5 separate regions of the Homo sapiens genome follow, and regions 1, 2, 3 and 4 are each linked to region 5. The links come from fine-mapping of genetic effects on gene expression. A gene starts in region 5. Each other region holds a variant in brackets. All regions are shown on one strand. Distances are between the middles of the regions.

Region 1 (5,101 bases), 39 kb before region 5:
GAGTGCAGTGGTATGATCCTAGCTCACTGCAGCCTGAACCTCCTGGGCTTAAGCGATCCTCCTGCCTCAGCCTCTTGAGTAGCTGGAACTCCAGGTGTGCCCCGCCATACCTGGCTAATACTTATATTTTTTGAAGAGAGAGGGGTCTTGCTATGTTGCCCAGGCTGGTCTCGAACTCCTGGGCTCAAGAGATCCTCCCGTCTCTGCCTCCCAAAGTGCTAAGATTACAAGCATGAACCACCGTGCCCTGGAGACATTTTTGATCATTGCAATTGGTGGTGGTGATGGGAAAATTGTTCCTGGTGTCTAGTGGATATAGGCCAGAGATGCAGCTAAATATCTTATAATGCACGGAATGGCCCTAACAACACAGAAGTATCCAACCCCAAACACCCACAGTGAGTCCTGAATCCCGAGGGGGTGAGCCCTCTGTCCGCTCTGGGTAGAGGGATAGAGAAGCTGGCTAAGGCCCTATCCCAGGGTATTCCCTGTGGGGAAGCTTGGAGCTGAGGCTGGGACTGGAGGAAGGATGTCTTTCATCAGATCTGGAGGACGCCAGATATCCTGACTGCTCCCGGCTGGCACAGGGAGCCTCATCTGAGCCCACGAGCCAGGGTGCATCCCACATCCCACCCGATCTGCCCACGAGGCCTCCCACCCGGCCCCTCCCTGGTGCAGCCCTGCACACACGCGCCAGCCACACGCACGCCTGTGTGATGTGGTGAGCAGGCCCCGTATGATGTGGGGAACGGGCGTGTGGTCGTTGGAGCAGGCCAGGCCCTCCTGGGGGCGGTGAGGACATATCTCTGGTGCCATCTTTCCTGTTCTGATAAATAACTGATCTGTGGTTGAGGCAAGAAGGTCACCTCTGCCCAGGGAAGCTCAGGAACAAACCACTTGTGACCGGTGGGAAGAGCCCGGGGGGGCAGCGGGAAGTCTGTCTTCCCTGGCCACCGGGCTGCTGGGGGCAGATTTCAGAAAAGGGAAGTGCTGAGCTGGGGCAGTGCTTCCTGTGGTCGCGGCAGGCAGGGCATCAGGGCGGGCACGGCAAATCAGAGGGGTGACTGCCCTAGCTTGGAGGGGCAAGGAGCTGGGGTCCCTGGCTGGGCCCCATGTGCTGCCAGCCTTCATGCATTGGGCTGAAGGCCTGGGGGGGATGGAGGAACATACTAGAACACCAACAGCACTGAAGCTCCCCTGCTTGGGAGTGCCCCTGGGCTCCTCTCTGCACTCAGAGTGAAGTCCCCCTGGGCTTCGTGATTTGCTCCTCAGCCTCTGCTTCTCTGGCACCTGCTCGTCAAGTTCCCTCTGCATAGGGCCCCCTTCTCCCACCAGCTCTGAGCACTGGGGTCGGTGGAGGGGGCACCCCCTGCCCCTTCCCCTCTGCTAAGCCCGGAGCCCCTGGCTTGGCTGCTCTGGGAACCCTCTTCATCCCCAAAGGAAGGCCTGAGCCCAGGAGCCTGTGAGATCCTTCCCAGGCCCTGGCGCCCCTCTGGTGGGCAGCTGTCTGTACCCCTCTTCTATACTTAGGGGGGATCTGGTGCAGGGGCTTAGGAGCAAGGGAGGTGGCCGGGCCTCTGTAGTTCCTGGAGCTCCCATTTCCTCTTCCACTAAACTCTCAGCATCACCACATGACCCAGACTGTGAACCCAGGGGAGTGCTCGGTTGGGGAGGGGAGTGGAGGGAAACCGGCTCCCTCCTGTCCCAGCCCTGAGCACCAGCACTGCGGTTCCAGCTCCCTGCAGGCACTTCCTGCCTGCTCTGGGAAAGCACAGATGGCTGCCACGCCATCACAGCCCTGGGGTTGAGCCCAGACCCCCGAACCTTGACTGTCCAGCCCTGCCAGACCCCGTCAGGATCCACATAGACCCGATGGGTTGCTCTGTCTCCTTGGCTCTGGCCGAGTCCATGGACAAGGAGCATGGCTCCATCCGCCCCGCTCAGCTCTGTGCAGCCCACAGCCCTGCCTGCCCCACCTGAGGGTTGGGG[C/T]TCTCTGGACTGGTCAGGGGTGTGTGCTGTCCCTGCCACCCTGCCCCAGCTGAGGCCTGTACCTGGCAGGGGTCGAGCCAGTAAAATCATTGTCCTGCCCTAACCCATGGTGTCTAGGCAGTATGGGCAGGGCCAGGGAGGGCCCATCCAGCCTCGCACCCCACCACTCACCGTCTTGCTCTCTCCTTTTCACTCCCTCTGTCTCCTGACCTTGGGTCACCTCTTCCCTTTCTTGCTCTCACTCAGTCCCTTCTCTCTGTTTTTCTGTTTCTTATTTTGAGACAAAATCTCACTCTGTTGCCCAGGCTGGAGTGCAGTGGCACGATCTTGGCTCACTGCAACCTCCACCTCTTGGGCTCAAGCGATTCTCCTGCCTCAGCCTCCCGAGTAGCTGGGATTACAGGTGTGCGCCACCACGCCTGGCTAATTTTGTATTTTTAGTAGAGATGGGGTTTTGCCATGTTGACCAGGCTGGTCTTGAACTCCTGACCTCAAGTAATCTGCCTGCCTCAGCCTCCCAAAGTGCTGGGATTACAGGCATGAGCCACTGTGCCTGGCCTGTTTTTCTGTTTCTCTATCACTTTAGTAAGTCCTTCTAGCCCCCAGGACCCCCCAGCCCCTCTCTGTATCTGCACACATTTGTCAGTCTGTCCCTCCACCACTGTCCTTGTTTCCTCTCTCTTCCTCGTCACCCTGCCCTGACCTGGGGGGTTTGTGTCTCTCTGTCTCTCTCCGCCTGTCTCCATCTCCCCCTTATCCTCACTCTCTCTCTGTCTGTCTCTCATTTTCATTCTCTTTCCTTTCCTCTTTCTTTTTATTTTATTTGTATGGGTCCATAGCAGGTGCATATATCTACGGGGTACATGACATACTTTAATACAGGCATGCAATGTGTCATGATCCATCAGGGTTAATGGGGTCTCCGTCCCTCAAGCATTTATCTTTTCTCTGTGTTACAAACATTCTCATCATGCTCTTTTAATTATTTTTAAATGTACAGTAAATTCTTGGTGACTGTCATCACCCTGTTGTGCTATTAAATACTGAATCTTTTTTTTAAAAAAATTATTTTAAGTTCTGGGATACATGTGCAGGACGTGCAGATTTGTTACATAGGTCAACGCGTGCCATGGTGGTTTGCTGCACAGATCAACCCATCACCTGGGTATTAAGGCCTGCATGCATCAATCCTGGATCTTAGTCATTCTACCTAACCATATTTTTGCACCCGTCGACCATTCCCGCTGCCCTCCCCTCCCTCTCTTTCTCCCCCTCTCTCATTCTCTCCCCATTTTCATTTTCTCTCTCTCTTCTCATTCTCTTTCTTCCTCTCTCTGTCTCTGCCTCTGCAATCACCCCTGGTCTTCGCCCTCCCTGTCTCTGCTCCCCGGAGTCCCTGCACGTGGCTTGACAGTGGCCTTGGTAGGACCCACTGGGGTGTTTCTTCGTCGCCCATGGGCCCTCATGCTGTTATCAGTTGGAAATGAATCAGAGATTAGGAAGCGGGGGGAGTGGTGGGGGTGTTATCGCCCAGTGCACACGGGGCTCTCAGCTAATCTCTGGCGGCCCTGGGTTCGAGAGGAAATGCAGTTGCAACACTGAGTCCTTCTTACCGTCACTGTCATGTCCGCGGCGAGGCTGTGGGGGACACGGGCAAGAGATTGGAGAGGGGAGAGGGAGAGGAGAGAGGGCCTGGCCTGAGCTCCTGGCAGGCGTTTGTACAGGCTCACGTGCACACGTGTGCACACACAGCATGTACACCTCCTGGCCCTTGACACCTGAGCCGTCGCCAGGCCTTGCCTGTCACCCTTCCATTGCCTCTGCATGCCCGCACCTGTCCACGTCTTCCCCTGCCGCCCCACGTCCCCAGCCACCATCTCTCTTCATGGGATGGCAGCTCTGGCCTCATCCAGGCTCTTAGCCAACAGAGTGGCCATATTATTATTATTATTTTATTTTATTTTATTTTTTTGAGATGGAGTCTTGCTCTGTCGCCCAGGCTGGAGTGCAGTGGTGCAGTGTCAGCTCACTGCAAGCTCCGCCTCCCAGGTTCACGCCATTCTCCTGCCTCAGCCTCCCGAGTAGCTGGGACTACAGGTGCCCGCCACCACCCCCGGCTAATTTTTTGTATTTTTAGTGGAGATGGGGTTTCACTGTGTTAGCCGGGATGGTCTCGATCTCCTGACCTCGTGATCTGCCCGCCTTGGCCTCCCAAAGTGCTGGGATTACAGGCGTGAGCCACCGTGCCCGGCCCAGAATGGTCGTATTATTAAATGACCACATGATCGGGCTGCTTTCCGAACTTCACCTTCCCACGGTTCTAGGAAGCAGCCACCATTATCATGGTGGCCTCCAGGCTTGCGTGTCTAGCTCCTGTCCTTCCTGCCCTCACCTCCCACACCCCTTGGCTTCCTAGCACCTGCAGTTCTGCCTCGACCCCTCCTCAGTGCCCCGGCTTTTGCAAATGCTCTCCCCTCTGCCTGGAAAACTCTCCTCCCCATGACAACTCCCATGCCTCCTATGGCACTCGGCTTTCCTGTCCTTCATGAAAGCATCCAGGGTCCCCGAGTGCCAAGCTGCAGCAGGTCCCTTGTCTCGGGGCTTCCACCCTCGAGGCGTGAGCTCCCCCTGTCACCATCCTGCCTAGGGATTATGGGTGTAATTCCTACTTCCTGCTCACCTCCTGCCAGACTGTGGGCCTGATGGGGCAGGGACCGAGCCCTCCAGTCTGTCTAGGGCCTGGCCGCACCAGGCAGTGATTGAATGAACAGATCCATAAACACACCGAGAGACACGGATGTACCCAGGCCCATGCACAGACACACAAATGCAGTCACCAGCCATGCACGGAAACTCACATTGACAGACGCTCAACCTCACAAACGTGCAAACCAAAGTTACCTAGAGACGCACGCAGTGACCAAGACACACACACGCCCACTGTCTTCTGTCTATGCTCTGGGCTCACTGCCTCTCATCCAGCCCTGCCCCTCGGGCAGGATCCCCTGCGGGTGTGGGCCTCCTGCACTGCAGCCCTGGCCTTAGCTCCAGGGGGCCAATCCCATGTTATGGGCCCCCAGCAGGATTCTCTGGGCCCCAGCCGTGGTCTTGC
Region 2 (5,101 bases), 330 kb before region 5:
ACTGGCCACCCATGGATCCAAACCCATCAGAAGCCCACTCCTCCCCTGCCATCCCCAGTCCCCATCAGGCCAGACAAGTGCACACAGCCAAGGAGCATCATGATAGCTGCTCATTGTGTGGCCCTCTTGTCCTTCCCTCCTCAGAGCTTCCCTGGCTGTCCCCAAGAGTCACCCTCTAGCTCTTCCATGTGTCCCACAGCACTCCCCCCAGTGATGTCTCATGTGGCTCCCCCTGCAGAGCAGGGCGACTTCCTGAGAAGCAAGTGATATCCTTATTGTTTTTCGCTTTGTTTTGTTTTTGAGATGGGGTCTTGCTCTGTTGCCCAGAGTGGAGTGCAGTGGTACGATCATAGCTCACCGCAGCCTCAAACTCCCGCTTCAGCCACACGAGTAGACGGGACTACAGATGTTCACCACCATGCCTAGGTAATTTTTGTATTTTTTTGTAGAGACAGGATCTCACTACATTGCCCAGACTGGTCTCGAACTTCTAGCTTCAAGTGATCCTCCCACCTCAGCTTCCCAAAGTGTTGGGATTATAGGTGCGAGTGCTGCACCTGGCCCACTCTCTTATCTTTATCAATCCTGGAACTCTAGCATTGAGCACATTGCCTCACACCTCATAGGGGCTTAATATAAGCTTTTAGGTGGCTTATCTCCAAGACGAGAGTAATGAAAACTAGCTCCTATACACAATGAAAGTCAGAGAGCTCCGCTTTAGGTAACTGTAACTGGGAGTCTCTGAGACGTTTCTGGGTCTAGTCCAATCATTTTCTTGGCACGAGCCATTCATTCACACCTACTAGAGGCAAAACACCATGACAGCAATGAAGAAACCTTGTCTTCATCCCCAAAGTGGTGAGAAGGGAGGAAAAACACCCAAATAATTATTACAGAACATAGAATTATGGAATGAGCCGGGAGAAAGGCTCTCACTAAAAATGAAAAAAAAAAAAAAGAGCATCAATGAGATGTGGGATAAAAACACTATTGTTTTCTATTTGAAGCCAGTAATTAGCACAAAGTGCTGGGGTGGGCAGGGAGGGAAGATTCCTCCAGGTCTGGGGCCAGCCTGGGAATTTCAAATGCTTTCCTTCGAGAAAATCACACAGGCGTTTAGACTGGGCTTTCAGAGATGCCCACTGGTCCCACATTTGGAAATGTGACGGAACAGCATTCTAGGAAGAGGGAACGGCATGAACAAAGGAATGGAGCAAGACATTGGTTGCAGTGCTCGGAAATCATAAGCACGATTCTCCGTTTTGCTAGACTAGAGGCATCTTCGAGGGTGGGGCTTGGGGGCATGGTGGGGACAATTCCCATGGGAAGGGCTTCCAGAGCAGATGGAGGAAATCCCAAGGCCTAGTGAGGAGCACCCACTGACAGTGGCCCCAGGAATGTTAGGTAGTGGTCAGCACGAGACACAAGGCTGGGAAGGGTGGCACAGAGTGGGGGCATCTTTCAGGAGTGAGGGATGGGCACACCTTCCAGTCATCTCCTACAGCCCCCACCACCGACTTGCACAGCCACCCACAGGAGCAGAAGCTCCAAGCAGTCTCTACCCAATACCCCCACTCTGTTTACCTCTGTGTGGCACCTGCCACCCTGTATTTGTCAAGTGATTCCACAGTTTCCATGTTTCCACCCTGCCCCCCTCCACCACCTGCTACACGACAAGAAATGGTTTTTGTTTGTTTGCTTGTTTTGGAGACAGTCTTGTCTGTCACCCAGGCTGGAGTGCGGTGGCACGATCTTGGCTCACTGCAACCTCCACCTCCTGGGTTCAAGCTATTCTCATGCCTCAGCCTCCCAAGTAGCTAGGACCACAGTCATGTGCCAACATGCCTAGCTAATTTTTGTATTTTGGTAGAGATGGGGTTTTACCATGTTGGCCAGGGTGGTCTCAAACTCCTGACCTCAGGCAATCCGCCTGCCTTGGCCTCCCAAAATACTGGGATTACATGTGTGAACCACTGCACCTGGCCAGAAAAGGTTTTCTTAACCTTTGAATCCCAAGGGCTGGCGTCCAGCAGGTCCTCCAAAAAGGCTGCATAAGATTTTTTTTTTTTAAAGAGTGAATCCCCCCTCATACCATCACAATCATTCCTAACTATGGTCCCCTCATCAATCCTGTCTCTACTGGGCATAAAAACCCTCATGGGCAGCACCACTCTCTCAACGGCAGGCAAATGTCCAGCATGGCTTATCAGGCTGATATAGGTTGGTTCCTACCAAGTGTTATGGGATTTTTGGGGTGTCGATTTTTCTGGCCGGAACCTCTGTGGCCACAGTGCCTTTGCCTGAGTTCTTGTCCTGCATCCAGGAAGAATGAGGTACACAGACAAGTGAAGGGTGAAGAGGAGTTTTATTTAGTGTTAGAAGAGCTCAGAGGAGTGGGTAGCTCCTCTCTGGAGACAGATTGTCCCATGAGCTCAACCATTCAGCTCTCAACAGAGAGGAGGCCCTGGAGAGAGTGGCTCCTCTCCGCAGGCAAGTCATTCCAATGTCTCTGCAGGTCTCTGAAGCTCGCAGCAGAGTGTAGCTCCTCTCTGCTGGCAGGTGGTCTCTGTAGCTTTCAGCGGAGAAGGTACTCCTCTCTGTAGCTGGTCACCCCACCGTCTCCAGCTATCAGCAGAGAGGGTACTGCTCTCTGCAGCTGGTCATCCTGTCCCCTCGTCTCTACCATCTTCATCCTCTGGCTATTCTCTGCGCTGCTCTGGCTGAGCC[C/T]AGGGTTTTTATGGACCTCAGCGGGGAAGAAGTGTGTGCTGATTGGGCCATTGGCAGGCCCAGAAAAGGCTCCACGAGTTTCCACTCTGGTCAGAGGGACTGGCAGCCCAGCCCCCAGAATTCAGGCCCTCCCTGGCCTGAGGGTGGGGCCTTACTGGGGACCCCACCCCCTTCCTCCTGCTGCCATTCATGGCTGCAGGTCTTGGCTCCGACTCCCCTCCAAGATCAGAGCAGTTGCTGGAGTGGAGAGAGGCCAGGCAGTGGAAGCAGACACCCCTGAGCCTGCAGGGATGGAGGGTGAAGGGGGCTGTCCTTCCTGGGATGGCCGATGGTGCAGGCTACAGAGATGCCCTCGTCCTGTGCCTGGGGGGGCAGCCACAGCTGCACCTGGGAGCTCCCACCCCGCCAACTTGGAAGAGGCAGGGCTCCCACTTGTCCCTGGCTCCTGCCTGCGCGGCTGCAGCTGCATCTGGAAGGGCAAATTCTGCCTGTTCCCGGCTCCCCCAGGAGCAGAGAGGCTCGGATCCACAGCTGCAGTTTGGGTGGCTGTAGCCCTGCCCAAGAGGGTGGGGCTCCTGCCTGCTCCATAGAGCAGAAGGCCTGGGTCTGCAGCAGCGGTTTGCGGCTCCAGTCCCAACTCATGAGGGACGGGGCTTCCACCGGCTCCATGAAGTGTGCAGCCCTAGCCACACAGCGTGATGGCAGCAGCCACTGCCATCACAAGGACCCAAATTCATTTCTTGCTTCCCCTCCTCTTCCTGCGCAGAGTCCCTGTGCTTCAGCACTCAGCGTGGGCTTCCATTTCCCAAACAGCAAATAATTCATTCTTTTTTAGGCCTTGGTATTTGCTGTCTTCTGCACCCAGAATTCTTTCCTTACTCCCTGCCAGGCCCAGGCCAACTCTCCAGGCTGACGTCACTGCCCTTCTGGTACACACATCAACAGCAGTTCTTGTTTTACCATTGTGTACAGAATTATTTATGGGCTTGTCTATCCTACAGACCGTGTGGCCATAAGCTGTCAGTTGTGGGTATCAGCACACAGCAGGGACTCATTAATGTTTGGGGCTTTAAATAAAAACTCAAGCCAGATGCAGTGGCTCACACCTGTAATCCCAACACTCTGGAGGCCAAGGTGAGAGGATTGCTTGAGCCAAGGTTTAAGACCAGCCTGGGCAGCATACCCAGACCCCATCTCTACCAAAAAAAAAAAATTATGTTTTTTTGAGGCAGAGTCTAGCTTTGTCGCCCAGGCTGGAGTGCAGTGGCACAATCTTGGCTCACTGCAACCTCTGCCTCTCGGGTTTAAGCGATTATCCCACCTCAACCTCCCGTGTAGCTGGGATTACAGGTGCCCACCACCACGCCCGCTAATTTTTGTATTTTTAGTAGAGATGGGTTTTCACCATGTTGGCCAGGCTAATCTTGAACTCCTGACCTCAAATGATCCGCCTGCCTCAGCCTCCCAAAGTGCTGGATTACAGGTGAGAGCCACCTCACGTGGCCTCTACAAAATAATTTTTAAAATTAGCCAGGCATTGAGACTTGGCAGAGTGTGAGGCAAAAAATAAAATAAATAAAAAATACCTAGGTGTGGTGGTGCACACCTGTAGTCCCAGCTACTCAGGAGCCTGAGGCAGGAGGATCACTTGAACCCAAGAGGTTGAAGCCACAGTGAGCTATGATCATGCCACTGTACTCCAGCCTGGGCATCAGGACAAGACCCTGTCTCTAAAACTAAATTAAATAATAAATAAATATAAGAATCCCCTTGGCTGCTACGTGGAGAATGGACCTAGGGGAAGGGCGAGAGTGGAAGCAGAGAAACCAGTGAGGATCTGCCGCAGCAGTCCAGACAGATGCTGGAGGCCGGGGTGTGGGTGGAGATGGGAACAGCTGGCAGATGTATGTAGTGGGTATATCGGATGGGACTTGCTGATGGGGTGTACATGGTGGGTGGAGGAGGGAAAAATGAAGAATGGCTATATCCAGCAGTGCAGCAGGTGTACGTCGTCCAGGAGTTAACTCCGGGCACGGGGACGAATGCTACAGGGGAGGCAGGGTGCTCCTGTCCAACTGTGGCCGACCCTGGGGCAGAAGATTGTTAACGCCGGGCACAGTGGCTCACGCCTGTGATACCAACACTTTAGGAGGCTAAGGAGCTCAAGACCACCATAGGAACATAGCAAGATCCCTGTTTCCACAAAAATATTGAACAATTAGCCGGGAGTAGTGGCGCGCGCCTGTAGTCTCAGCTCCTCGGGAGGCTGGGGTGGGAAGATCGCTTGAGCCCAGGAGTTCGAGGATGCAGTGAGCTATGATCGCACCACTGCACTCTAGCCTGGGCGACAGAGCGAGACCCTGTTTCTTAAAAA
Region 3 (5,101 bases), 25 kb before region 5:
CCTCTCTGGCCTGCACTCCTGGAGCCTGTTTTCCTGCTCCACCTCCCTCCTCGGCAAGTGTTGACTCAGGGAGGGATAGGCAGCCTTGGTTCAGGATTTCCTGGTCAGGCAGAAGTGGTGCCTTGAAAAGGGAACAATCTCGTGCTAAAGTGGACGCTGAGGGTCCACACAGTGCAGTGCTCTAGGGTGCCCAAGGCCGAGAGACCTTGTGCCTTCCTTGCCTGGGTTTACAGTGGGGGTCCCAGAAAGCTTTGCCCCTAGGGTGGCCCATAGGATGTGCCCTCAGGCTTTTTCTAAATGCTTCCTGATCTGGGCTGCCCGGGGTGGGGGCTCTGGAGCTGGACACTCCTCTGACTGCTGTGGAGGCAGGGACAGCACCCCCACAAGAGGTACCCCAAGAGAAATGGGGGCCCCCAATGTCCCCAGGCACTAGCTGTCCCAGGTTCCCTTCCACAGTGGGCAGCTTTACCCCTGCACCGCCCCATCCCCCAAAGCCTTAACAAATAAAAATGAAGCTCTTTGAGGCTAAGAGTCTATTCAAGCTCCAAGAGCTCTCTGCCATGTTGGGAGGAGCCTTCTAGAAGCGCTGCTTCTCTCAGGGGCTGGGAGGGCTGGCCTCACTGGGTACGCCTGAGAGATGCAGCATCTTAGTCGGCACCCATCTGCCGCGTCCACATCTGGGCTGTACCAAGGTCCCCCAGAGGCGCCACTGTCCCTGAGAGACGCTGAGTGAGCCCAGGGCCCAAGGACAGCAGCCACTTACTGTGCAAATGCCGGACCTTCCCTGTCCCCACCACCTGGATTCCTCCCGGGGTGGCCCTGGGTCTTGGGTCAGGCAGGGAGGCTGAGTGGGGTGGGCAGCCAGCACAGCCACCATGTCCTTGTCCCCCTGCCCCACAGGGGCTGCCTTCTCCAGCTGGAGGTTCAGGCCTAATCCCCAGGACAAAACAGGGATTTGCATCCTAAAAGCTGCTAATGCGGGTGCTGCTCCTCTGTCAGTGCCCGCTTATCGTAGAGGAAAGACACTGTCCCTGGGGCGTTGGGAGCCGCTGGTCTCAGCTGGTTCTAGGGATGATGGAGACACAGCTGGGTGGCATGGAGCTCAGCTATCCTTGAGCTGGGTCAGCCCAAGCAGGAACCCCAAGGGGGCCCCCGAGAACCTCTAGCCCAGACCCCTGGACTCAGGCCTAGGTGCCTGTCCCACTGTAGACACCACCCCAGCCCTGCGTGCTGCCACCAAACCTGTCCCCTGCCAGTGATGTGGGCACCCCTGACCCCTTGCACCCACTGGGACTCTTCTCCTGCACAAGGTCCCTGTCCCCACTGCTGCTTCTGCCCTGTCCCCTCCCTGCTGGGTGTGACACCCAGAAACCGGGCTGTGGGAGGCAAACATGGAGCTGGCTTGGAGAGCTTTAGACCCCCTTTCTTGCCTTGGGGACCCCGGGATCCTGGCATAGGCCTGCCCTGAGTGGGGAAAGACGATGTCAGAGTCCCTGGGACTGCAGAGAACGCGGTGTCCTCCGAAGCATGCCTGGGTCCCCCTGATCAGGGTGGCAGCAGGGGGCAGTGCCTGGGCTTTGGGTGCTGGCCCCCACCACGCTGAGCGGCCACGAGCAGGGCTGGCCGGGCCGCCATTAATGATTAACTTGGGGCCTGGGCCTTGACCTCGTGGGCCTCTGAGTAAACAGGCCTGCTGGAGCCTGCCGGGCCCCTCATGGCCTCTCCACCCCCTGACCTCTCCTGCCCTCCTGGTCCTGGCCTCCCTCACCCACCTTTGCTGCTGAGGTGGAGCAGTGGCAGGCGGTCTAGAGGCGCTGGCCTTTCTCACCCCCACCCTGGATCAGCCTACCGCTGATTCCTGCCCCTGGCCCCAGCCCATTCTCTTTGGAGCCTTTGAGGTGGGCTTTTCTTCTTGGACTGGGGCTTGCCCACTGGGGTGTCTCAAGCCCTGACCTCAGCCCCTTGCGTCCACACTGCTGGGGCTTGTTGAGACTGGCCGCGTGGAGCATGCTGTGTAGACAGTCAGGACCGGCTGTCAGAAGACCTGTGTTCTAGCTCCAGCTCTGGTCTCACTGGCTGTGTGACCCCTAGACCATGCCCTGTCTCTCTGGGCCTCAGTTTCCCCATCTGCACAATAAAAAATAGAGCAGGAATCCCAGGGCTTTCTAATCCCAGAATTCTAGATGCCAGTCTGGTTTGGAGTGAGACTGAGGATAGGAAAAACATATGTCCCCACCCCGCCCCAGAGGACCCCTTCCCGAAGAGTCACTGGGGTGGACCTCCAAGTTCCTGGCTGCCCACACTCACTTCCTTCTTCTGGGGCAGCCCCTTGTGTTCCCTTGGAGGACCAGCCCTCAAGCTCTCAGACCAGGGGCTTCAGGCAGGGCAGCCCCTGCCTGGGGCTCTGGAAGTGGGTCATATGACCTGGGCCTGGCCAATGGGTGTCTGCCCTGAGACTTTTGCTGGAAATACTGAGAAAAAAAAATCATTTTTTCTTCCCTAGCAAAGCAGGAGAATGTGAGCCCCATGGTTATCTTGCTGGGCACAAAGGAAAGGAGAGCTGAGGACCCGACACGGGTTTTGACGACGGAGCCCCAGCTGTGCCCGAACCGGCACCTTGTGGACTTTTCCATGGCAAGAACCAGTGGATTCCTTTTCTGCTCAAACCAGTGAGAGTTGGGTCTCTTCCCTGATTCACACATTCACACACTGGACTCACACCATGCAGGCACAGAGGCTACAAATGCACAGTTGTCACCGTTACACACGCACCGC[G/T]AAACATCTGTGGAGAAAATGTGCGTGACAAACAGGGCTGGGGAGGGAACCCGGCTGGCCGCAGTGAGCAAGGGTGGCAGGGGGTGGGAGAATGTGGGCCCAGGGTGCCGACCCAAGCTCTCTCCCTGTCACTTCACCCGCCATTTGCCCATCATCCCCACGTCCAGAACCCTCAGCCGGCCATTGTGGATGATGGGCGAATGGCGGCTGAGGTGGGCAGGCTGAAGCTGATTGGCCAGGGACAGAGGTGAATGCTCCTGTTTGCACGTGTGCGTGTGTTCACATGCACGCTGAGCTTTGCATGCAAGAAACATGCTGTGGCCCACTCGGGGAGCACTTTCAGTCCCTCCCCACTGCAGAGGCCTGAAGCTCAGTGAGTCGGGGAGGGGTCTCTGGTCAGTCGGGCCCTCCTCCACCCTGGGACTGTGTGGTTCCTGGGAGCTCAAGGGCCACCTGGGTGGGGGCAACCCGAGGAGAAGGGACTGCCTCTTCTGCTCCACTGTGGGATAGAAGGATCACCAGGGCCTTCTGCAGGAGCAGAGAATCCGCCTCATTTGGGCCTCCCCAGTTCTCCAAGGAGTGCTGGCCTCATGGGGCTATACTGGGGGAGAGGCTTTGTTCTGGAGCCCAGGCTGCCTTTATGACACTGGGTAGTCCAGGGTCCTAGATGCAGATGGCTTCAGGCATATTGCACATACCACATGCACACGCAGACACGCACACAGATGCATATGGGCACACGCAGGCACAGCTATCTTGTGTGAGCTCTGCGGATGGAAAAGGAGAAGCTTTCTGTGGACAGGGAACAATGGCGACAGAGGAACCCCTTGGCCCTCCTGGGAAGGCCCCACCCCACAGCTTGGCTCTTGCCAGGCCCCTTGGGCTCTAGCCTGGGGAAGGGCTCTCAGCCAGCAGCAGGAATAGCTGGATCAGGTGTCTGGAGATAACCCTGGCTCCCTGCTGCTGGCTAAAAGCCCTTCCCCCAAAGCTCTGTCTTCCCCTCCTGCTCCTCTTCCTCTCCGTGCCTTGCTTTTGGACTTTCAGGCCACATCACATTCCTTTTTCTTTTCTTTTCTTTTTTTCTTTCTTTTTTTCTTTTTTTTGTAGAGATGGGGTCTTGCTATGTTGCCCAGGCTGACCTCCAACCCCTGGCCTCAAGGGATCCTCCTGCCTCAGCCTTCTAAAGTGCTGGGATGACTCTGACTCTTTCTCTGCTTCCTCCTGTCTCTGTTGGTCCCAGTTTCTGTCTCTCTAGGGGGGCATCCCAGGAGAGGGGCAAGGTTCAGGCCTCAGGGCTTAAGCCCCTTGGCTGCTGGGCCAGGCCTTCCTCTTTCTGCTGTCTGTCCCCTGCCCTGCTTCCTTACTCTGGCCAGAGCCGACTTGCCCTTTGCCCTGGAGCTGCGGCACCTCGGGGTTGGGGGAACTGATGGCCTCACCTCCCCCACCCCCTGCAGCCCCTGCTCCTCCCCACAGGAGTCTGGCCAGAGAGTTGGGCCCTGGGGAGGCCACACAGCCAGGACACATGTCCTGGCCCCAGGCAGAACCCTTGCCCTGGCCACAGAGCCACACCAGCCAGGTCAACTCTGTCCTCTGAAATCCCTGGAGACCAGGGCAAGCCCCCCCCACCCACTCCCTGGGGCAGCTTCGGACTCCCACTCACCTCCAGGTTGGGAAAACTGACCCCCAGCCCAGGGCAGGAGGCAGGATGTGGAAGGGCCTCTAGCAGAGCTGAGGTCCAGCCGGCCATGTCGGGGGAAGGACGACCCTGTACCCTGTCATTCCCCTCACAGTGTGAGGCCCCAGGGAATAACCTGCCCTGGCAGGGGACTGAGAAGCAGGAGCAGTTTCCCAGCTCTGGAGCATGCTGGGTGGGAGCAGGCACGGGGCGTCTCTGGGGGTGGGGAGCAGCCCCTCCTTGCCTAGGCAGTCACTTTCTGGGGGCCAGCACTTCCCACACTCTCTTTTTTTTTTTTGAGACAGAGTCTCACTTTGTCACCCAGGCTGGAGTGCAGTGGCACGACCTCGGCTCGCTGCAACTTCCACCTCCTGGGTTCAAGCAATTCTCCAGCCTCAGCCTCCCAAGTAGCTAGGATTACAGGCGTGTGCCACCACACCCAGCTAATTTTTTGTATTTTTAGTAGAGATGGGGGTTCCCCATGTTGGCCAGGCTGGTCTCGAATTCCTGTTGATTCTCGAATTCCTGGTGATCCACCTGCCTTGACCTCCCAAAGTGCTGGGATTACAGGTGTGGGGCATCACGTCCGGCACTTCCCATGCTCTCAGAGCATTCACTGCTGCTGTCCAGGTCAGAGTCTGCCAGTGCCCT
Region 4 (5,101 bases), 52 kb after region 5:
CCACTTAAAACAGGAACCCATATTGCATATACAGTGAAAGAAGATATGATTGGAGCTTTGCCTTGAGAATTAAACAAGCATTACAAAAAGTCAGTTTTATTTTATATTTCAGAAAACTAGGTTATAGCTGCAATTATGCATTGTTCTTAAAAATCAGTGACGAATGAGTCAAGTGTTGATGGGGGAAAGCTCTGATGAAGGCACGTGATGAAGGCATGTGATGATATTCTATGGATTTCCCGTTGGACTGTCACAGTGTAATCACAAAGACAGCCACTTTATTAATTTTCCGAAGAGCATCCGAATCCTCTGCTATTAAACTCATTCTCTTTCATGTCAGTATCCTGTATCCACCGATTTCTCTTCTACAGTTGTTAACCTGTCTGAATCTTGTCTCATTCACCTGTCAATGGCTTTGCTCCTGATACAAGCAATCAATATGGCTTTCACAGGCTGTGTATAATCTGGCTTCTTCTGCAATTTCACTTATGGTAGACCTATCTTATGTGTCTTGCATCCCACTCCATTGCTAGGAAGAGACTGAGCCCTCAGAATGGTCACATGGTAGGCAAAATGGCTCCCCTATTGGGTCAGGTACAAATAAAGCTTTGACTATAACCTCAAATTGTAATATATACTGTTCACATCACTCTTTTTTTTTTTTTTTTTTGAGACGGAGTCTCGCTCCGTCGCCCAGGCTGGAGTGCAGAGGCGCAGTCTCAGCTCACTGCAAGCTCCGCCTCCCGGGTTCACGCCATTCTCCTGCCTCAGCCTCCCGAGTAGCTGGGACTACAGGTGCCCGCCACCACACCCGGCTAATTTTTTTGTATTTTTAGTATAGACAGGGTTTCACCGTGTTAGCCAGGATGGTCTCAATCTTTTGACCTCGTGATCTGCCTGCCTCGGCCTCCCAAAGTGTTGGGATTACAGGCGTGAGCCACCACACCCGGCCTGTTCACATCATTCTTTTGTCTTTTTTATTTTTTATTTTTTTATAGAGATGGGGTCTTGCTATGTTGCCCAGGCTGATCTTCACCTCCTGGGCTCAAGCCGTCCACTCACCTTGGCCTCCCAAAGTTCTGGGATTATAGGTATGAGCCACTGTGCCCGGCCCTCATCATTCTTTTCTAAACATAATTGAAATTGCCATATTATATCTGAAAGATTTATTATACTCCAAATAATTTTCTTTTTTAGACGGAGTTTTGCTTTTATTGCCCAGGCTGGAGTGCAATGGCATGGTCTCAGCTCACTGCAACCTCTGCCTCCCAGATTATCCTGCCTCAGCCTGCTGAGTAGCTGAGATTACAGGCACATGCCACCACGCTGGGCTAATTTTTGTATTTTTAGTAGAGACGGGGTTTCACCATGTTGGCCAGGCTGGTCTCGAGCTCCTGACCTCAGATGATCCGCCTGCCTCAGCCTCCCAAAGTTCTGGGGTTACAGACGTAAGCCACTGTGTCCGACCTCCAAAAGATTTTTAAAAGATGATTTCTCTTTTGATTGGCAAGTTATTTGATTATTTAAAAGATCCTTTTTATTGCATTTTGGACAATGAAAGTCCTACTTTTTTGGAATATATTAACTTTTCTTTATTGCTTAAGGTAAAATTCTTTTGTGTGTGAATGTTCTATCGATACTTAAAAAGAATGTATATTATTTGACCTATACAGCATTAATGTATTTTCTCTATTAAATCATGTTGTATGTTGTTATTCAGATCTTCCTTGTCTATTTTAAAAAACAGACTTATGAAGATATAATTTATATACAATTCAATGATTTAAGGTATGCAGTTCAATGTTTTTTGGTGCATTCACAGAGTCATGTAGCAATCACTGTATTGTAATTTAGCCTAACTTACCAAAGTCTTTGCAGATTTATAACGACTTAGTTCCAGTGAAATATAGAATCCTGAATAGCTCCATTATACTCCCTTCTAATGCTATTATTATGCATTATAGTATAATAGTATTTATGCATTTTTAATAGCATTCCTGCATTATTATTGTTTATGCTAATATGTTATACATATTATTATACATATTATGTTTCTATATGTTAAAAACCCAACAATTCTTTGGTATCATTAATGCATTAGGTAGTCTGAAGTCTTTTAAAGAAACTGAGAGAAGAAAGGAGAAAAAGTATATCTACACAGTTGGGCACGGTGGCACATGCCTGTAATCCCAGCACTTTGGGAGGCCAAGGAGAGTGGATGGCTTGAGTCCAGGAGTTGGAGATCAGCCTGGGCAACATAGTGAAACCCTGTCTCTACGAAAAATATGAAAATTAGCCAGGTGTGGTGGCACGTACGTCTATAGTCCCAGCTACTTGGGAGACTGAGGTTGGAGGATCGCTTGAGCCCAGGAGGTCAAGGCTGCACTGAGCTGTGATTGTACCACTGCACTCCTGTCTGGTGACAGAGCAAGACCCTGTCTCAAAAGTATATCTATAGAGTTTTAAAATTTTATTTATTTATTTATTTATTTATTTATTTATTTATTTATTGAGATGGAGTTTTGCTCTTGACGCCCAGGCTGCAGTGCAGTGGTGGGATCTCGGCTCACTGCAACCTCTGCCTCCTGGATTCAAGAGATTCTCATGCCTCAGCCTCCCAAGTAGCTGGGATTACAGGCACCCACCATCTCGCCTGGCTAATTTTTGTGTTTTTAGTAAAGGTGGGGTTTCACCTTGTTGGCCAGGCTGATCTCGAACACCTGACCTCAGGTGATCCACCCGCCTCGGCCTCCCAAAGTAATGGGATTACAGTGTGAGCCACCATGCCCGGCCACTACCTTTTAATTTACCCATTCCGGTTGTCTTTGTTTATTGCTATAGTTTCAGCTACCATCTCATGTCCTTTCCTTTTCCCAGTATAGCTTTGCTCTCACCTTCCATGTAGCATCAGTGTCAAGTACACTGTATTTCAGTAGATTATAGCCCCAACAACACAATTATATACACATTGTTCTATGAAATTACTTTATAAATCAGTTAAAATAAGAAAGGAGAAGAAGGTCAGACATGGTGGCTCAAAC[C/T]GGTAATCCCTGCACTTTGGGAGGCTAAGGCAAGAGGTTCACTTGAGGTCAAGAATTCGAGACCAGCCTGGGCAACATGGTGAGACCCCATCTCTACAAATTTTTTTTTTTTTGAGATGGAGTCTCGCTCTGTCACCCAGGCTGGAGTGCAGTGGCGTGATCTTGGCTCACTGCAAGCTCCGCCTCTCAGGTTCATGCCATTCTCCTGCCTCAGCCTCCCAAGTAGCTGGGACTATAGGCGCCTGCCACCACGCCTGGCTCATTTTTTGTATTTTTAGAAGAGACTGGTTTCACCGTATTAACCAGGATGGTCTGGATCTCTTGATCCACCCACCTCGGCCTCCCAGAGTGCTGGGATTACAGGTGTGAGCCACCACACCCGGCCTCTACAAAATTTTTTTAAAAAATTAGCCAGGTGTGGTGGTGCGCATCTGTGGTCCCAGCTATTTGGAAGGGTGAGGTGGGAGGATTGCTTGAGCCCAGGAGGTTGAGACTGCAGTGAGCCGTGTTTGCACCACCACACTTCTGCTTAGGTGACAGGGTTAGACCCTGTCTCAAAAAAAAGAGAGAAGAAATATACAATTATATACTGTCTTTTGTAATTTCTACATAATTTCCTTTACCAATGTTCTTTGTATGTGTGTATTGTGTGTTTGTGTATGTTGTGTGTGTGTGCATGTTCACATTACTGTCTGGAGTCACTTGCTTTCTGCCTGAACACTTCTTGTCAAGCAGGTGTGCTATCAACAAATTCAGGTTTTGTTTATCTGGGAATATCTTTATCTTGCCTTCGTTTTTAAGAGAGAATTTTGCTGGATATAAGATGCTTGCTAGATGAAATTTTATTTTCAGCACTTTGACTGTATCAACCCACTGCCTCTGGCTTCCATTGTTTCTGATGAAAAGACTGCTGTTAATCTTACTGGGAACTCTTTACATGTGACATGTTGTTTGCTCCTGTTGCTTCTAAGATTTTTCTTTGTCTTGCAGCATCTTTACCGTAATATATCTGGATGTGGATCTCTTTGTTTGGCATACTTGGAATTTGTTGAGCTTCTTGGCTGTGTAGATTAATGTTTTTCATCAAATATGAGAAGTTTCAACCTTTGTTTCTTTGAGTACATTGATGCTTCTGCCTTTCCTCTTTACCTGCTAATTCTTCTGTGTGTATTTTGGTGCATATAATGGCATCTCACATCTTCCTGAGGCTTTGATAATTTTTCTTTCTGCTCTTCATTTTTTTAATTCCCTGTACTTATGATTGGATAATCTATATTGATCTAGCCTCAATTTCACTGATTTGCTCCGGCCAGCTCAAACCTGCTGTTGAATCTCTCTAGTGAAGTTTTAATTTTTTTAAATTTTGCTTTTCAATTCTAGAATTTCTATGGGTTTCTGTTTAAATAATTTTGTCTTTTTCTTGATGTTCTCTGTTTGATGATATGTTGTTATCATCCTTTCTTTTAGTTCTTTAAGCATGGTTTCCTTTAGTTCTTTAAGGATGTTTATAGTAGCTGCTTTGAAGGTTTTTATGCTATTTCACCATCTGGGCTCCCTCAATTTCATGTATTTTTAAGTATTTTTCTCCCTGGCCTGTCAAAGAATGAGAGGTATATTAAGGTATCCCACTAAAAATGTGTTTTGTACATTTTTTTCTTCAGGTTCCTAACTTGCATTTAAAAAATTTTGTTGATGTTAGTAGGTGTATAGTTTTCTATTATGGTATTATTAAATATTGAGCAGGTATAAATTAACATTCATAAAATAGGAGTTAAATATTAATGGCATAACAAATATCTGAGTTTCTACCCATTGCATTTGAGAAAACACATTATCACAAATTTTTTCCCTTTTTATTTTGAAAAATGAATTTGGAGGATTTATACTACCAGATGTCAAACCTTATTATTATGTTTACCATAGCATATTATTATGCTATCATAAAAGACTGTGATATTAGCACTAGTGTAGACAGACCATTGTAACAAAACAGAGAGTCTAGAAATAAATCCACACATATATGGCCACTTAATTTATAATTAAGGAGACAAATGCAGAGT
Region 5 (5,101 bases):
CTTCGGGCCTCGCAGGGGTAGGGTGTAGCCACATGGTCTAGGGAAAGAGGAGAGGGTTGGAGGGTCCTACCACTGGAGGCCTCTTCCTGCTGGCCGAGGGTCCTGCTGGAATCTGGAGCTGCGGTGTGTGTGAGTGGCCAGGGCTGCAGCTGTAGGTGATTTGCAAGGAAGTCTGCACAAAGGGCTCCTTGAGCCTAGGGCTGCTTAGCCAGGCCTACCCCTCAGGCAGAGGACTCCCTCTCCTCCTCCCCGGGGCAGATAAGAAGCCTCGCCAAGGCCTCAGCCCAGTAACCCCTTCAGCCCCCTCCCCTGACCCCAAGAGACTGCCTTCAGGCTCTGGACATACTCCATTTGGAGCCTTGTCCTCTGCTATTTATTTGTCTTGCCTGGGGGAAGTAAGTCACCCCCTTAGGGTAAGAGGGGCTCAGGATGGATGGAGAGCTCATGAAAGTCAGGATTGCCGCCAGGGAAAATGCTGTATTATTTACAAATGTGACCTGGCCCACAGACAACCTTGGAAGTAGCTTCTTTCTGGTTTTAAAAAGACACCGACATTGACTTTGATATGTTTATATTATAGATATAATACATAAAACATCTAGAGTGAGACTCTACGTTCTCCCCAAAAGAAGAGAACCAAGCCGTCCTTCCCTGCTCCCAGCCCCAGTGATGCGTTGGCGGGAGGCCACCTCCCTTCCCGACCAGGAGCCAGGGCCTCTGGGGGACAAGCCTTGTGGGCAGCCCAGGCCGGAGGGGCTGGGGAAAGCTGAGGGCAAAGGAGAACCCCCCTCACCTCATTGGTCCCCCAGGATCAAAAGTAATCCCAAAACCAAAAGGAAAGGGAGTCTCAGACCCTTCCCCCAGCTGCCGACGGAGAGTCTCATTTTGGCAAGTATCCGAGCAAAACCAAAACAAAACAAAAACCAAATAAAATGGTGGTTTAGCAGAGACGCGCACATTCACATTGCACAAGGCACTGCTGGGGCACAGAGGCCAGATACAAGTGTTGATATCGGCTGATAAAGCAAAATATTTGGAAAGCTTGTCATAACTCCGGTCCCTCTGGGATGGACTGATCGTGCTTCGTGTTCCTAGGCAATGCTGAAGGCATACAGTACAAACAAGGCTGAGGGTCCCAGTGGCCCTTCACCCCCCATGCCCGCCCCACAGCCAGATCTCTAGGTCTCCCTCTCCCACCAGGGGTATACATCCTCAGAGCTGACCCACGACCTAGCTTTCTGGTGTGACTCGGGGTGGGGGCTCCCACTGGTCACCTGGTGACCCCCATCGCAGTGAGTTCCGCCCCAAGGGGAAGCCCAGCCTATAGCAGGCTGGGGTGGGGTGTGTGCGGAGGGAGGTGGGAGAGGCGTGGAACTAGAGACCCTCCACCTTCATGTAGAACTAGGGGAACAACCTTAGGTTCCAAGCCCCAAGTCCCTATGTTTCCACCCCTTTCTAAGGACAGGCGTGGAGGAGCGGCTGGGGCTGGCGGGCTTGTCGGGATCTCAGCTCCCTGAGCCCTCCTCCTGCCACGGGCCTGCTCCCCTCCTTCTCTCATGGGGGTCTGCTGTAGCCTCGGGAAGGAGGCAGGAAACCTCCAAATAAAATGACAAGGCACGATTTGCTCCCCCTACTCAGTAGGCATTGGAGCGGTGAGTTTGCATTTCCAAGGCACAAGGTTATCCTAAATACTAGAGTTGCCGGGCTCCCAGCTCAGCCCCAAGAATTCTCCCCTCCTCGCAGGGAGAAGCCACCGCCTGGCCCCCTCATCTTAGACGCACCAAGTCCGGCGCAGAGGAAGGGAGGGGACACGCGGAGCAGGCCAGGCTTTCAGGAGGCACCGGAATCTCCTAGTCCTGGCTCGCACGGCTCGGGCAAGCCTCGAGATCCGGCGACCCCAAACCACTCCCTGGGTCCCCGCCGGAGGCTGGCCCAGGGCGGTCCCACAGCCGCGCGCCTCACGCGCAGTTGCCCATGGCCTTGACCAAGGAGCTCTCTGGCAGCTGGCGGAAGATGCCCCGCAGCGTGTCCAGTTCGCGGCTCAGCTGTTCCACCCGCTTGCGCAGGCGGTCATTGTCACTGGTCAGCTCCAGCACCTTCTGCTGCGTCTCCACGTTGCGCTGCTTGGCCTTGTCGCGGCTCTTGCGCACCGCGATGTTGTTGCGCTCGCGCCGCACCCGGTACTCGTTGCTGTTCTTGTCCACCGACTTCTTGGCCTTGCCCGCGCCGCTGCCGCCACTCGCGCGGAGGTCGGGGTGCGCGGCGCCCAGCCCCTTGAGCGCGCTGCCAGGGCCCGGCAGGCCGGCGGCACCGAGCGCGGGCGCGGGGTGCGGGCTGGGCACGGGCGTGGGCGGCGGCGTGGGGTGACCGGGCTGCAGGTGCATGGTGGTCTGGCCGCAGTGCGCGATCTGGAACTGCAGGTGCGGGGCGGCCAGGTGCGCGGGCGGCGGGTGCGGGTGCGGGTGCGAGGGCGGCGGCGGCGGCGGCGGCTGGTAAGGGAAGAGGCCGGCCAGCGCCAGCTGCTTGGCTTCATCCTCCTCGCGGGGCTCCTGCTTGATCACCAGCGGCCGCAGCGCCGGCGCCCCGACGCGCTCGTACAGGGGCTCCAGCCTGCCGTCCAGGTAGCCGGCGGCCGCGCAGCCGTAGCCGGGCGGGGGCCCGTGCGCTCCCCCGGGCATGACGGCGCCGCCGGGGCCCGCGGGCGCGCCCGGGTAGTCAAAGTCGCCGCCGCCGCCGCCGCCCGTGGGGCCCACGGCCGCCTTGGCCTTCTCCTGCTGCCGGCTGTGCTGGAACAGGTCGGCCAGGAACTCGTCGTTGAAGGCGGCCGGGTCGATGTAGGCGCTGATGTCGATGGACGTCTCGTGCTCGCAGATGCCGCCCAGCGGCTCCGGGGCGGCAGGTGGGGCGGGAGGCTGCGCGGGGCCCGCGCCCCGGGGAAAGCCGAAGGCGGCGCTGCTGGGCGCGTGCGGGGGGCTCTGCAGGTGGCTGCTCATCGGGGGCCGCGGCTCCGCCTCGTAGAAGTCGGCCGACTCCATGGGGGAGTTAGAGTTCTCCCGGCATGGCGAGCCTCGGCGGCCTCCAGCCTGCGCGGGGCGTCGCCGCCGCCCACCCGGAGACCCTGCTCGCCCGCGCCCGCGCACCTCCGGGTCGCGAATGGCCCGGCCCGCGCCGGCCCAGCTTTTATACCCGGCAGGCCGCGTCGCCCCCTAGAGTCCGAGGCGGCCTCTGTCCCCGGGCTGCGGCGGCGCGGCGCCTGCTGGGTCCTAGCGCGCGGCCGGCATGGGGCGGCGAACCAGCGCGGCACAGCGCCGCGCTCCCCAGGCAGGCCGCGGCGCAACGCCCACCGCCTCCAGCGCGCCCAGCAGAGCCGCGGCGCTCGCTCCAAGCTCCGCCCCCGGCCCGGCCGTCGCCCCCGCGCCCACGTGGTCGGTAGCGGGGGCCCCCTCCTCCTGCCTGCCCTAGGCGCCCGTATCCAGCCACGGCCGGGAGCCCAGGAGTATCCCGAGGCTGCACGGGGTAGGGGTGGGGGGCGGAGGGCGAGTCTTGGTCTTGAGCTGCTGGGGCGCGGATTCTCTTTCAAAGCCAGAACCAGGCCTGTCCCGGACCCGCGTCCCGGGGAGGCTGCAGCGCAGAGCAGCGGGGCTGGGGCCGGTGGGGGGCCGTTTGGGACGCGCGGAGAGGTCCTGAGCGCGGTGGCTCTGCGTCTCCTAGCTCTGATCTCCAGGCTACCCCTGTGATTCCGCGCAGAGGTACCTCTCGGAGGACGCCGGGGTCCCATGGGCGGCGCCGCGCAGGGCGCTAGGACCCCGCGGGGAGCGGAGGCGGCCTCGGCCCGGGAGCCTGGAGGACCTGGCCGGTCGATCCGCCCGGGCTGGAAAACTTTCTTTATAATTACTTCTCCAGGTCGGAGCGCGCGGCTTGCTAGGCGCGCGGGGCCGGCGCTGTTACCCGGCGTGGAGTCGCCGATTTTTTTTCCTGCGGGACCGCGGGGCCCCCCAGACTAGCGGAGCTGGACGCCGGGGCGAGCACGGGGAGGGGCGCACCGAGGGAGGAGACAAACTTAACTCTGGGGCCGGGATTCCGAGGCGGGGGCCGCAGCCCTCGAGGCCCGAAGCCACCGCTTCCTCCCCCGCCTCCCCATTCAGGTGGGCGCCAACGGCGGGAGCGAGGGTGTCCAGGCCGCCGGGCTGCCAGGTCCGAGCACGCACAGGGAGAACTCTGCCCAGTGGTTCGCCGGGCGCTGTAGTCCCCGGGATCCTAGGGACCGAGGCGGCCAGGCCCTGGGGCCCCTTGAGTGCGGCAGCTAATGCTCTCACCGCGGCGGGGGAAGGAGCTTGCCACCGAGACCCCCAGCCACGTGCGTCCCTCGCATTCTTTACCGGGGCCGGGGTGGCGGCTACGGACCGTCAGCTGGGCCCAGATGGAGTCTTGGGAGCCCTCAAGTGTCTCCTGTCCTTGCCCGCGCCGCCCCTCGCCACTGGCGCTGAGGCCTGACGCCGCCTGCGTCCCGGCTAGAGGCGCGCTTGCCTACAGGTGAGGGAAGACCCCCTTCACCGACAGTGGCCTTAGGCCTGGCAAGGCGCCACGACCCGCCCAGGAGCCCCGGAGGGGGCACAGCTAAAAACACCGCTGGAGAGCCCCGAGCTTCCACGACGATCGCAGTAAAGAAGCAGTTTCATCTGGGCAACGCACACTGCGCTTTAATCAAGTTCCTATTCAACATAGTCCCAGTGATTAATAGCCCAACTGCTTCGTTTTCGGTCCAGAGCTCATAAACAAGATATTTTTAGCTTGACGCTTTTGGACGGGAGGGAGTAAAAACCAGATACGTTAAATAAATATCCCGATGTGAGCCGGAGAGCTGCTTGCTGAGCCAAATGCAGGACCCATTCATATAGCATTCACCTGTGGAGGGAGACCTGGACGGAAATCAAAAAGCACCAAGAGCGATTTGCGTTTTTTTCTGCGGTGCTAAAACTAATGGCTTTTCCTACCTAGGAACAAAGAAACGCCACTGTACATGCACGGTTCCCGGCCTGTGGAGTTGTGGGAGGAAGGCGATGTCTGGCCTTTTTTGCACAGCTGCTGTTGCCTGCCCAGA

The links. PIP is the estimated chance that this variant, and not a neighbour inherited with it, causes the effect.
Region 1: its variant is the best candidate, but not a certain one, in a credible set for the expression of CEBPA in whole blood (TOPMed, PIP 0.85).
Region 2: its variant is the best candidate, but not a certain one, in a credible set for the expression of CEBPA in whole blood (INTERVAL, PIP 0.57).
Region 3: its variant is the best candidate, but not a certain one, in a credible set for the expression of CEBPA in whole blood (TOPMed, PIP 0.67).
Region 4: its variant is the best candidate, but not a certain one, in a credible set for the expression of CEBPA in whole blood (TOPMed, PIP 0.68).

The regions. Positions count from the first base shown.
Region 1 is chr19:33,260,025-33,265,125 of GRCh38, forward strand. No RefSeq gene overlaps it. Among named protein-coding and RNA genes, the nearest start is that of SLC7A10, 37 kb to the left of the region's middle. The variant C/T (reference allele first, on the strand shown) is at 1,990.
Region 2 is chr19:32,966,563-32,971,663 of GRCh38, forward strand. The region is part of intron 1 of CEP89 (centrosomal protein 89); the gene reads right to left. Among named protein-coding and RNA genes, the nearest start is that of CEP89, 2.8 kb to the right of the region's middle. The variant C/T (reference allele first, on the strand shown) is at 2,728.
Region 3 is chr19:33,274,530-33,279,630 of GRCh38, forward strand. No RefSeq gene overlaps it. Among named protein-coding and RNA genes, the nearest start is that of CEBPA, 25 kb to the right of the region's middle. RefSeq lists enhancers at 1-281, 1,568-1,712, 4,012-4,569 and a cis regulatory region at 1,634-1,647. The variant G/T (reference allele first, on the strand shown) is at 2,776.
Region 4 is chr19:33,351,743-33,356,843 of GRCh38, forward strand. No RefSeq gene overlaps it. Among named protein-coding and RNA genes, the nearest start is that of CEBPG, 19 kb to the right of the region's middle. The variant C/T (reference allele first, on the strand shown) is at 3,042.
Region 5 is chr19:33,299,380-33,304,480 of GRCh38, forward strand. CEBPA (CCAAT enhancer binding protein alpha) reads right to left here and starts at 3,155. Exons shown (of 1, transcript NM_004364.5): 1 at 555-3,155. The coding sequence starts at 3,035. The coding sequence ends at 1,959. CEBPA-DT (CEBPA divergent transcript) reads left to right here and starts at 3,442. Exons shown (of 1, transcript NR_026887.2): 1 at 3,442-5,101. RefSeq lists silencers at 2,986-3,555, 3,636-3,895.